Regions from separate parts of the Homo sapiens genome. Here region 1 is linked to region 2. The links come from fine-mapping of genetic effects on gene expression. A gene starts in region 2. The other region holds a variant in brackets. All regions are shown on one strand. Distances are from middle to middle.

Region 1 (5,377 bases), 67 kb after region 2:
TTCATTCATTGGACTATTTGTTTTTACCAGTAAATCCCTGACTGAGACGTTATGAAAGTGATATTGCACCTAGGAAGTCATTTTTATAACCTGTCTTTAATTTGGTCCTTTTGCTAAAGATTGCAGTCACTGCTTATTTATTATACCATTGGGCATAGGGTAGTAATGCATTTTCATTTTGCTTTACTGGCAGTCCTTTGATTGTATCTAAAAGAAGGCTGTATTCTAGAAGTTGTTGTTTTGTTTTTTTTTTTTTTCTGACATGAGATGTTCTTTAACAGTTTGGGTTTGGTTTTTTTGTTTTGTTTTTTTACTGTGATAATTCTAATTCTCCCTATTTATTGTTTAAAAACAATAATAGGATACATAAGTAGTTAAACTTATGAATTTGTTTTTCATTCCATCTTAAAGGCAAAAATTAATTCCACAAATATAGAGCCACCGAGTACAAGTGGTTGTGGTCGTTTTGAACATGGTTTCTTCTTTATTTTGCAGGACCAAAACCAGTCATGATCATGGCATTTATTTTTTAAAAAGTTTTTTTTGGGGTTGGGAGGGTAATGCCTCAGATTTAGCCTAAGAAAACTCCATTTTTAGCCCAAAGGTATAATATATGTATATATATATGTGTGTGTGTATAACAACAACAACAACACAACCAAAAAAACCAATTGTTTACACCAGCCTGAGTGAAATGATGAGGGAAGTAAACATTGTGTTTTTTCACTAAAGGTGTACAACGGATAAGGTAAGTCCTCTTTTCAGTGGGCTTACATCACAATAAAAAGCGCAGGTTGTGATGTAAAACAGCTGTGGTAGTAAAGTGCTTGTCTGCCCCATTTTGCTTTGTTTGGCTGGTTATGAGTGGATTAAATATATATTTATTAAAAAAATTATCCAGCATAGATCAATTAGTTTAAAGTCAATTTTCTTCGCAACTAGTCCTTTTCACAGCTTACCAGTTACCCTCGCAGCCAGTGTTAAATCCACTCTAGGAAATGGGACTTTAGAGCACCAGATTAAAAGGAAAACTATTCTTTTCTCTAAGGGCAACTAATTGTTTCTTTTTATTTAAACTTTTCACAGCCCCATTAAATTGTAAAGCATCTCCTAGTCTATGAGGAACATCAAAAAAAATTGTAAAGCATCTTTTGAAAACAAATTCAACATACTGAGTTGTAATTATAAAGTTTTACTGCATCATGTTTAAAAATGTACTTTTTCTATTTAACCATGCCAGTTGAGATTTTTTTTTTTAAACTAGGTTAAAAAGTTGTGTAGGAGGATATCAGTGGGCAGAGTAAAGTGATACTTGATGGGAAGTTATTTGGGGATCTTAAAAGGAATTTTTAAAGTTTTACAATTTAAACCTCCTGATGCCATTGCTTAAAAGTGCTTTGCATTACTTATTAATGTAATTTTGCCATAGTAATTTGAAATTAATCCCAACTGGACGTCAGCCAAGGTGGTTAATTGGGTTTAAACTAGGAAAGGAAGGTCTTGAGTGTAAGCTGTGAGAATGGCTTGTGTTTGGTTCACTGTAGCTTTCTGGTCTCTGCACTCCAAGGCAAGATCTCTAACCACCCAAAACCCAATGTGTAAAATGAGCTGTTGGTTTGGCTTTGCACCTTACCTTGATTATGTGTTCCTGTTACAGGGAGAACAGATCCCATTCCAATCGTTGTCAAGTATGATGTCATGGGCATGGGTCGCATGGAAATGGAGGTAAATTGATCTCATTAACTCATAAGTTTTGTGAGATATTTTGAAATAATACTAATTCCAAATTCAGATGTCTGTGCAAGAATACATTTATCAGATGAAATGTAGTTTTAATATTTTTCTTTGGATGACTAAAAAATATATTTTACATTTTCATTTAGTGCTACTTTTGAGACAAATAGAATATAAACAGAGCTGCTGTTTTAACTGGCACATAAAGAAGTTAAGTGATTTGCCGAGGGTTATACAGCAAGGCAATATCAGACTTAGATCCAGACCTTGGTACTTGCTTCAGTAGGCAGTGTTGCTCAGCTCTTAAAATGTTGCTGTGATAAAAGCTTTGCCTTTGTAGAATTGGGTACGGCTGTCACCTGTAATACCTGCTTTTCATTGCCTAAAATATTTTCTTCATTGACTCCTAATTCCTTTTTTTTTTTTTTTTTTTTTTTTTGAGATGGAGTTTCGCTCTTGTTGCCCAGGCTAGAGTGCAATGGCGCAGTCTCGGCTCACTGCAACCTCCGTCTCCCGGGTTCAAGGGATTCTCCTGTCTCCTGTCTCAGCCTTCTAAGTAGCTGGGATTACAGGCGCATGACACCATGCCCGGGTAATTTTTGTGTTTTTAGTAGAAACAGGGTTTCATCATATTGGTCAGGCTGGTCTTGAACTCTTGACCTCAGGTGACCCGCCCGCCTCGGCCTCCCACAGTGCTGGGATTACAGGTGTGAGCCACTGTGCCCAGCCTCAATTTTCAAAGAATTAGGAGTCGCTGGGCGCAGTGGCTCACGCCTGTAATCCCAGCACTGTGGGAGGCCGAGACAAGCAGATCACCTGAGGTGAGGAGTTCAAGATCAGCCTGGCCAACATGATGAAACTCCATCTCTACTGAAAATACAAAAAAAATTAGCAGGGCATTGTGGCGGGCACCTGTAATCCCAGCTACTCAGGAGGCTGAGGCAGGAGAATCACTTGAACTCGGGAGGCAGAGGTTGCAGTGAGCGGAGATCATGCCATTAAACCCCAGCCTGAGCAACAAGAGTGAAACTCCATCTCAAAAAAAAAAAAAAAAAAA[G/AG]GAAAGAAAGAAAAGAAAATTAACATTGAAGTGAAGTCTACTTTCAACAAATGTGCCTTTTGGAAACTACCAGCCTGAAAGTAACAAACTATTTTGCATGTGATTTTCTCTGTGAGGTGACAATAAAGCAAGCAGTAGCTAAGCAAAATTACAATTTTTTTTTGTTTTCAGATAATACTGTAGTTGTGCAAATAACTTTTTCATAGCTAATCTTGGGGGTACTTTAGGAATTAAATCTAATCATATCTATTTTTGTCAAGCTTGATTATGCTGAAGATGCTACCGAACGGCGCCGTGTCCTAGAAGTAGAAAAAGAAGACACAGAAGAGCTGAGACAAAAGTACAAGGTATTTAAACAAAGCTATTCATTGGGAGATGGGGAGGTGCTCACTGAATAAGAAAGAACTCAAATTTTGTTGAAAATCATCACTGTTGCTAACAGCATTTGTTTGACATTTGGTGGTAATTAGTAGTAGATCTCAGATTTCTATTACATTCCTATTTATTGGCTCTGTATAAACTATAGAGATAATAATACCTACTTCTAAAGTGTGTTAGAAAGATTACATGAATTAGTGTTTGAAAACACAATGCCTGTTACATAGTAGGTATTCAAGTAGTGGTAGCAGTAAAAATTGTTAAAAGTCCTTTGAGGCCAGACACAATGGCTCACACTTGTAACCCCAACACTTGCAGAGGCCAGACACAGTGGCTCACACTTGTAACCCCAACACTCAGTAGAGACGGGGTTTCACCATGTTGGTCAGGCTGGTCTCGAACTCCTGACCTTGTGATCCACCCGCCTCGGCCTCCCAAAGTGCTGGGATTACAGGCGTGAGCCACCACGCCAAGCCTAATTTTTGTGTTTTTAGTAGAGATGGGGTTTCACCATGTTGGCCAGGCTGGTCTTGAACTCCTTGCCTCAGGTGATCTGCCTGCCACGGCTTCCCAGTTTGCTGGGATTTCAGGCGTAAGTCACCGCGCTTGACCCCCTTTCTTGTTTTTGAACTTAGCTTAGCTATATATTAAATTTTTGTGTGTTTTATTTTATCCAGAACTATAATATAACCAACTCATCTTCTTTTCCTGCCCCTTTTTCTTTCCCCTTTTTCTTCTCCTTTCCTCTCTCTTTATTCACTCTTCAGCCTATTTATACTGACTTTAGCAGTTTTCACCAAACCACTTTATTCAAGGCCACCAAACACTTCTATTTGCTAAATCCAATAAATCATTTATTTATTTATTTATTTTATTATTATTATTAATATTATTATTTTTTTTAAAGACTGAGTCTCACTCTGTTGCCCAGGCTGGAGTACAGTGGTGTGATCTAAGCTCACTGCTCCCGGGTTCAAGTGATTCTCGTGCCTTAGCCTCCGAGTAGCTGGGACTACAGGTATGAGCCACCACGGCCAGCTAATTTTTTTGAATTTTTGGTAGAGATGGGGTTTCACCATGTTGGCCAGGCTGGTCTCGAACTCCTTACCTCACGTGATCTGCCCACCTCGGCCTCCCAAAGTGTGGGGATTACAGGCGTGAGCCACTGCGCCTGGCATACTCTTTCTTCTTTAAAACATTTTCATTACTCTTGGTTTTGAAGAATTTATACTTTCCTAGATTAGTTGCTTCTTATCTGTCTTGCTGCTTCTATGTAGATTCCTTTGTTGGCTGCTGTTTATTCTGCCTGAACTTCAGATATTGGAGTTCCTCAGCTTCAGACCTGGGCCCTCTTTTTCTGGCTACATTCTTTCTCTAGGCACAAGAGTGGTCATGACACCATGTTTCATCATCTTTCACTTGGTTAAATTTTCTCCTTTGGGTTTTAGCTTAAATATTACCTCATTATAGATCTTCCCTAATCAACTCATTTAAATAATTAACCACTCTGCCTTATTCTCTTGCAACAACCTCTCTTACAATTTGTAATTATAAATTTTTATTCACTAATTTATATTCTGCTTTCTGTACTAGTCAGAAAGGGCATTGAGGAGAGAGAGTATGTCTATTTGTCTGCCAGTATATATCCTGCATCCAGCACAGTGTGTGGTGCATAAGTACTCAATAAATATTAGTTGAATGAATAAATATTTTGAAATAGTGAGAAAAGCCAGATTCATTTTATGTACTGTCTGAAATATAAACATTATAAAGAATACATTTTTATTTTTCAAGTAAAAGTTACACTGTCGAGTGAAAAATAAATGAAATACCTCAGTAATTCACAGCCTCATAAGATTATACATAGTATCTTGAGATGCTCTCTCCCTGGTAATAGAATTATTTCTCGGCTGGGTGCGGTGGATCACGGCTGTGCTTTGGGAGGATTGCTTGAGCCCAGGAGTTTGAGAGCAGTCTGGGCAATGTAGCAAGAATCTGTCTCTACAAAAAGAAAAAAGAAAAAAAATAGCTAGGTGTTGGTGGTGCATGCCTATAAATCCCAGCTACTTAGAGAAGCTGAATTGGGAGGATCACTTGGGCCCAGGAGTTGAAGACAGCAGTGACCTATGATCACACCACTGCACTCCAGCCTGGGCAAGAGCAAGAATTACTTTCCCCATCTTATTGATCAAAATATTTACTCCGAAA
Region 2 (5,377 bases):
AGAATGGAGGCTTTACCATATCCTCCCATTTTCAGCATGGTTGCTCCTTCTCACCTATAAAGTCCAGTCTCTCTGGTTCAGCCTTTCCAGAGGGAAAACCTCTAGTTTGCTACCTGGGTGGGAAAAGAGACATCGAATCATCAGTGGCACCAGGGGCTTCTACTTCCTGAGCCTTTCTGGTGCACTTTAGCATTGATCAACTTCTTTCCTGTCTTCTCCTACTCTATGACTTCTTTTTCTCCACTCTACTAAAGTCATTTCCATTTATCTGTGCTCTCTGGCCTCCAAAATGTTGACATCTGTTGTCTGCCATTGTCTCTTCTCCAGGTCTCTTTGTCCATGTGAATTTATGCACTTCTTATTCCTCTGCTGTCATTTCAGTGGGCTTTTGAGAGGAAGAAGAGGTCAGTGTGATGTGTATCCTCGTGATTCAATCTTTCACGCTACCCTTAAGTCTCTTTACAATGTTTGAGCCAGGCTCGGTGGCTCACGCCTGTAATCTCAGCACTTTGGGAGGCTGAGGCGGGCGGATCACAAGGTCAGGAGTTCCAGACCAGCCTTGCCAACATGGTGAACCCCGCCTCCACTAAAAATACAAAAAAAAAAAAAAAAAAAAAAGTCCGGGCGAGGTGGCTCACGCCTGTAATTCCAGCATTTTGGGAGGCCGAGGCAGGCGGATCACGAGGTCAGGAGATCGAGACCAGCCTGGCTAACACGGTGAAACCCCGTCTCTACTAAAAATACAAAAAATTAGCCGGGCTTGGTGGCGGGCGCCTGTAGTCCCAGCTACTCGGGAGGCTGAGGCAGGAGAATGGCGTGAACCCGGAAGGCGGAGCTTGCAGTGAGCCGAGATCGCGCCACTGCACTCCAGCCTGGGCGACAGAGTGAGACTCCTTTTCAAAAAAAAAAAAAAACAAATGAGCTGGGCTTAGTGGTGGGCGCCTGTAATCCCAGCTACTAGGGTGGCTGAGGCAGGAGAATCTCTTGAACCTGGGAGGCGGAGGTTGCAGTGAGCCGAGATTGCGCCACTGTACTCCGGCGACAGTGCGAGACTCCGTCTCAAAAAAAAAAAAAAAAAAAGAATACAATGTTTGAATTCTGTGTGCCCTGCCTCCCCTTAGATGGAAGCGTAGGCTGAAGCATGGGTGGGGCAAAGGGTAACAGCTAGAAAATACACACCCTTCCTCAAAAAATTACATTCCATTTGACTCTTTCAGGGCAGGGTAAGACCCATTTTTCCATTGTGTGATTTCTGTCAACTACTCTTTTCAAAAGGAGAGAAGTCCTGCCACCCTTCTATGTGTTTTATGTATTTTGGCTAAGAGTCCTGGAGCACTGGGTGAGGTCCTCAGAAGGGATGGAAAAATCCGATTCTTGACTCTCATAGTCAGCGCTAGGCAGGAGCATCAGAGATTACTGAATCCAATTTCCCTATTGTATAAAAAGGAAACTGAAGCCCAGAGAGCTTTAGTCGATCTGGATCAACTTCGGTCCCTTGTGAAATACTTCTCTCAAAGGATGGCTCGAAGTCAAGCTCCTTGCAGTCTTTGGGCCTTTGGGTCTAACGTTCCCTATGCCCCAATGCTGTAGGCTCCTCGCTGTGCCTCGGTCAAAGGTCCTTTCAGAGACTGTCCCTCTCAGCACTGTGGCCAGTTTTACTTTTTTGTGGCACTTGTTGATATTTAAAAATATTTATTTTACGAGTTATGTGAGTTCTTCCACTGGAATGAAATCCCCATAAGAGGAGATCATTCCTGTCTCGTTCACCGTTGAATCCTCAGGGTGAGCTGAGATTCGAAGCTAAGCAGTCTGGCTCTAAGGTCGCGCTTTCGGCCCAACATTATGCTGCTATTTAGTGAAGACGATGGACTTCTGCGCACACGGGGAAGCAACAGTGAGAAAAGACACCCGGAAGTGAGCAACAGCAAAACATCCAGATTTGTCCGCACGGTGCCCCCTCTGACCTTTCCCTCCGGAAGCTCTCGCGGCTCTCGGGCGGGAGTGCGCACGCGCGGCCACCGGGGTCGCTCCGGGTCGCGCGCGGAGCAGGGGCTAGAGGGAAGGGTCAGCCTCCAGGGCTGGCAGGCGCCTGCGCCGCGGGGCTCCCGTCAGGACGCGCATTCTCGCTCCCTCCCTCGGCTGCGCGCGCCCGGTGGGCGTGGGAGGAGGCGGGGAACCGGGGAGGGGTGGGTGTCGCAGGAGGGAAGGAGCGAACCGGAGAGCGTCGTCCTGAGAGGAGTGAAGGCGGCAAAATGGCGGACCGCTTCTCCCGCTTCAACGAAGACCGAGACTTTCAGGTAAACACGGGCGTCGCCGAGGATGCGGGGAAGGCGCTGGTCTAGCCCAGAACCTCCTTCATCTCCGGCTCCCAGCCCTCTTTCCTTCCAGTTTTGCTCCGACTTGCGAACCAGCTCGCTCTTCTCCCGTCTCTGCTTTCTCAAGAGGCCTCCCGGCTTGAGGGAGGCCGCATCTCCTCGCACCCGCATTCTCTTACCCCTGAAACTCAGGCCGCGGGGCTTGCGGCTTCCGCCTGTTTGGCATCGGATTTCGGAACCGGGCCTGAGCGCCGTGTGAGGGGCTGTGCCCTCCAGGTCTGCCCGATCTGTGCCGGCGAAGGGCTGGCTCCCAGGGGACAAGAGGGGTGGTTGGGTTGGGCTGAGAGGGCTTGGGGGAGAGTATTGCTGAGGCCAAGGCTTCCGAACCCCGGGATTTTGCTCTCACGGATCCTTTTGGGGTCCTTCTCTTTTCTTTCTTCACTGTGATAAATCAATTCCTTTCATTGTCTGCTTTTCCTCTTCCTTACCTGGGAAAAGGTTGCCTTCGCTATCAGACGCCTTATTGGTTAGTCATACATTGAGATTTCGCGGGGCATAAGTGTTGCTGTTATTAGGCTGTTAATTGGGCTTGGAAAGCAGTAAGTTACTGGACTATGATCCGATGTGAGCCTAACCTCAAATCCTATCTCGAAAGATTTGTGAGAAGCGTGATGATAATAGGCCGTCCACGCATGGGGTCACTAGTGCCAAAAGCTTGATTTTTCTTTCTTCAATTGCAAATGTTAGTATGGAAAAATGCCCTTACGATGGCAAGCTCTATTGAGTAAAAAATAAAGGCCAAATTAGAATAACTTGTTTTTTCGCTGTTGAAAATACCTTTCTGTTGAAATTGTTACCGCGGAAATCTCGAAGACTAAAAGGGATTTAGTAGAGATTGGCTATTTCTAGGTAAAATACATCCGTAGAGTCTCAAAAAAAAAAAAAAAACACTGCATTACTACCGCATATCCTGGCAACTGCAATTTGGGTCGGGATGAATCTCAGAACTCAAGTTTTTATCCCGCTGCAGATCCTACTCAAAGCAGTACGAAAGCACTCTAGATGTGTTTCAGAAGGCAGTTTAAAGAGTTTGAATTCCCTGAGATGATAGGATTGGTAAATAAATAGGTAAAGCAGTTTAACAATTTTAACTCAGCACTGTTAACAGTCTAGTACATAGAACGCTTATGAGAAGTTTTGCAGCAGTAAGGGATCTGGGGGCTGTTAAAAAGCCTTGTGATCATGCGCCTGCTGTATAGCTGCAGCACAATACAGGAGAGTCTCAGGATGTTCTAAGGATATAATGCAGATTCACCAAAGTTTGAAGCAGTTCATGTTAGCCTTTTGATCCCTGAGAAATATATATATATACACACATATATATATATTAGCAAGCACTATAAAATATGAGTTGGCTGCAAGGTGTATGAGCTTTATTGATTTTTAAATTACCGGTAGAGACATACTGATAACTAAAGCCCGCAAATGCTTTTCAGAGGAGAGAATAATCTCAAGGTGACCTAATAAAATCGAAAATAGATAATATGGACAGTTAAGTTTTGAGGGAAGATGACTGTCAACCACAGAATTCCAGCAGGCTTAGCAAACAGGATTTTCAGGGCCTTTAATGAAGATTTTGAAAATTGTGGATAGCAGAGTGTGAATGCTGTTTCCTGAAAAACATTCAGGGGGTTAGCCTGTACTTTTTCAATACTCAGTTTCCAAGTAAGATGACCCTGTCTTCTGATGCTTTAGTTGGGTATTGCAAAACCCGATTTTGGTTTCATGGTAGTCCTTTGAAGATGATACGTATACTTCATTTTCTGCTTATATGTTGAAAGAACCAACCCCTGTTAAATTGGGTCAGCCAGGAAAAATTTTTTTTTTTTTTGAAATGGAGTCTCGCTGTGTCGCCCAGGCTGGAGTGCAGTGGCACGATCTCGGCTCACTGCAACCTCTGCCTCCCGGGTTCAAGCAATTCTTCTGCCTCAGCCTCCCAAGCAGCTGGGATTACAGGCACCCGCCACCATACCCGGCTAATTTTTGTATTTTTAGTAGAGATGGGGTTTCACCGTATTGGCCAGGCTGGTCTCGAACTCCTGACTCGTGATCCGCCTGCCTCGGCCTCCCAAAGTGCTAGGATTACAGGTGTGAGCCATCGCGCCTGGCCGAAAATGTTGGTTTTTAAAATTCAGATGTCCTAGCATTTTGGGTAAATAGGGTATTGGGAATGGAAACCTTTTTAGACAGTTGTAAGATGTTAAAACTTTTATAAATTATGTTAACATTTCTAAAGTACATTCATTGAAAAATAAAGTGGTATTTTTCTAGATGTTTTAATAAAGGGAAAATACAGATTGACTTTCATTTAATGATGTATTTTGATTCAAAATTATTGGTGAGAGAATGTAATGTAATAGGATTCTCCTGTGAATAATGTATCTGAAACATTTTCAGCTTCAGGTTATTCAAAATTAAACGTGGCCTCCTTTTAAGGTTTTGGGTGAAGCCACTGACTATACTTGAAAACAAGTCATAGTAGGTTTCCAAACACAGTGGATAGATCTTGTTGCTTTCAACAGATCTTGTAGCACTGGAAATTGTTCATCTTCTCTGGTAAGTTCGAGATGACTTATTTTCTTTGCCTTTAATTTAGCAGGATGATTTAAAGTTGTAGAACTTCACTCTTTACCGGTTTATCAAGTGCAAATTTTGGAGAGTTTGATGTCTCTTGAAATTATTATGGAGTGAGGGAGTTGGGCTATTAAAATTTGTGAATACCTAAAGTTGCGAAGGTATTTTGTATATATAGTGAAAAGTTATAGTTAACAGTGGTATGCCACTTGAAGCACTCATGTATATAGAGATTAATAATTATCAGGGACCTAACTTTTTTTAATTGGTAACTTTATTATAATAACAAACAGGTCCTATTCCACAGGCTTTATGTGTCTTATCTCATAGTCTTCACTATAACCCTACGAGGTAGGTACTGTTATTACTGCCGTTTTCAGCTGAGGCACAGAGAATTAAGTAACTTAGCCAATTACATACATCTGTTA

Evidence for each region. PIP is the estimated chance that this variant, and not a neighbour inherited with it, causes the effect. A credible set is the group of variants that fine-mapping cannot tell apart.
Region 1: its variant is the best candidate, but not a certain one, in a credible set for the expression of GPATCH8 in whole blood (INTERVAL, PIP 0.55).

What each region holds. Positions count from the first base shown.
Region 1 is chr17:44,432,826-44,438,202 of GRCh38, reverse strand. It overlaps GPATCH8 (G-patch domain containing 8), which reads left to right. Exons shown (of 8, transcript NM_001002909.4): 4 at 1,658-1,725; 5 at 3,052-3,138. Among named protein-coding and RNA genes, the nearest start is that of ITGA2B, 46 kb to the right of the region's middle. The variant G/AG (reference allele first, on the strand shown) is at 2,792.
Region 2 is chr17:44,500,246-44,505,622 of GRCh38, reverse strand. GPATCH8 (G-patch domain containing 8) reads left to right here and starts at 2,217. Exons shown (of 8, transcript NM_001002909.4): 1 at 2,217-2,297. The coding sequence starts at 2,253. RefSeq lists a silencer at 1,934-2,283 and an enhancer at 2,384-2,483.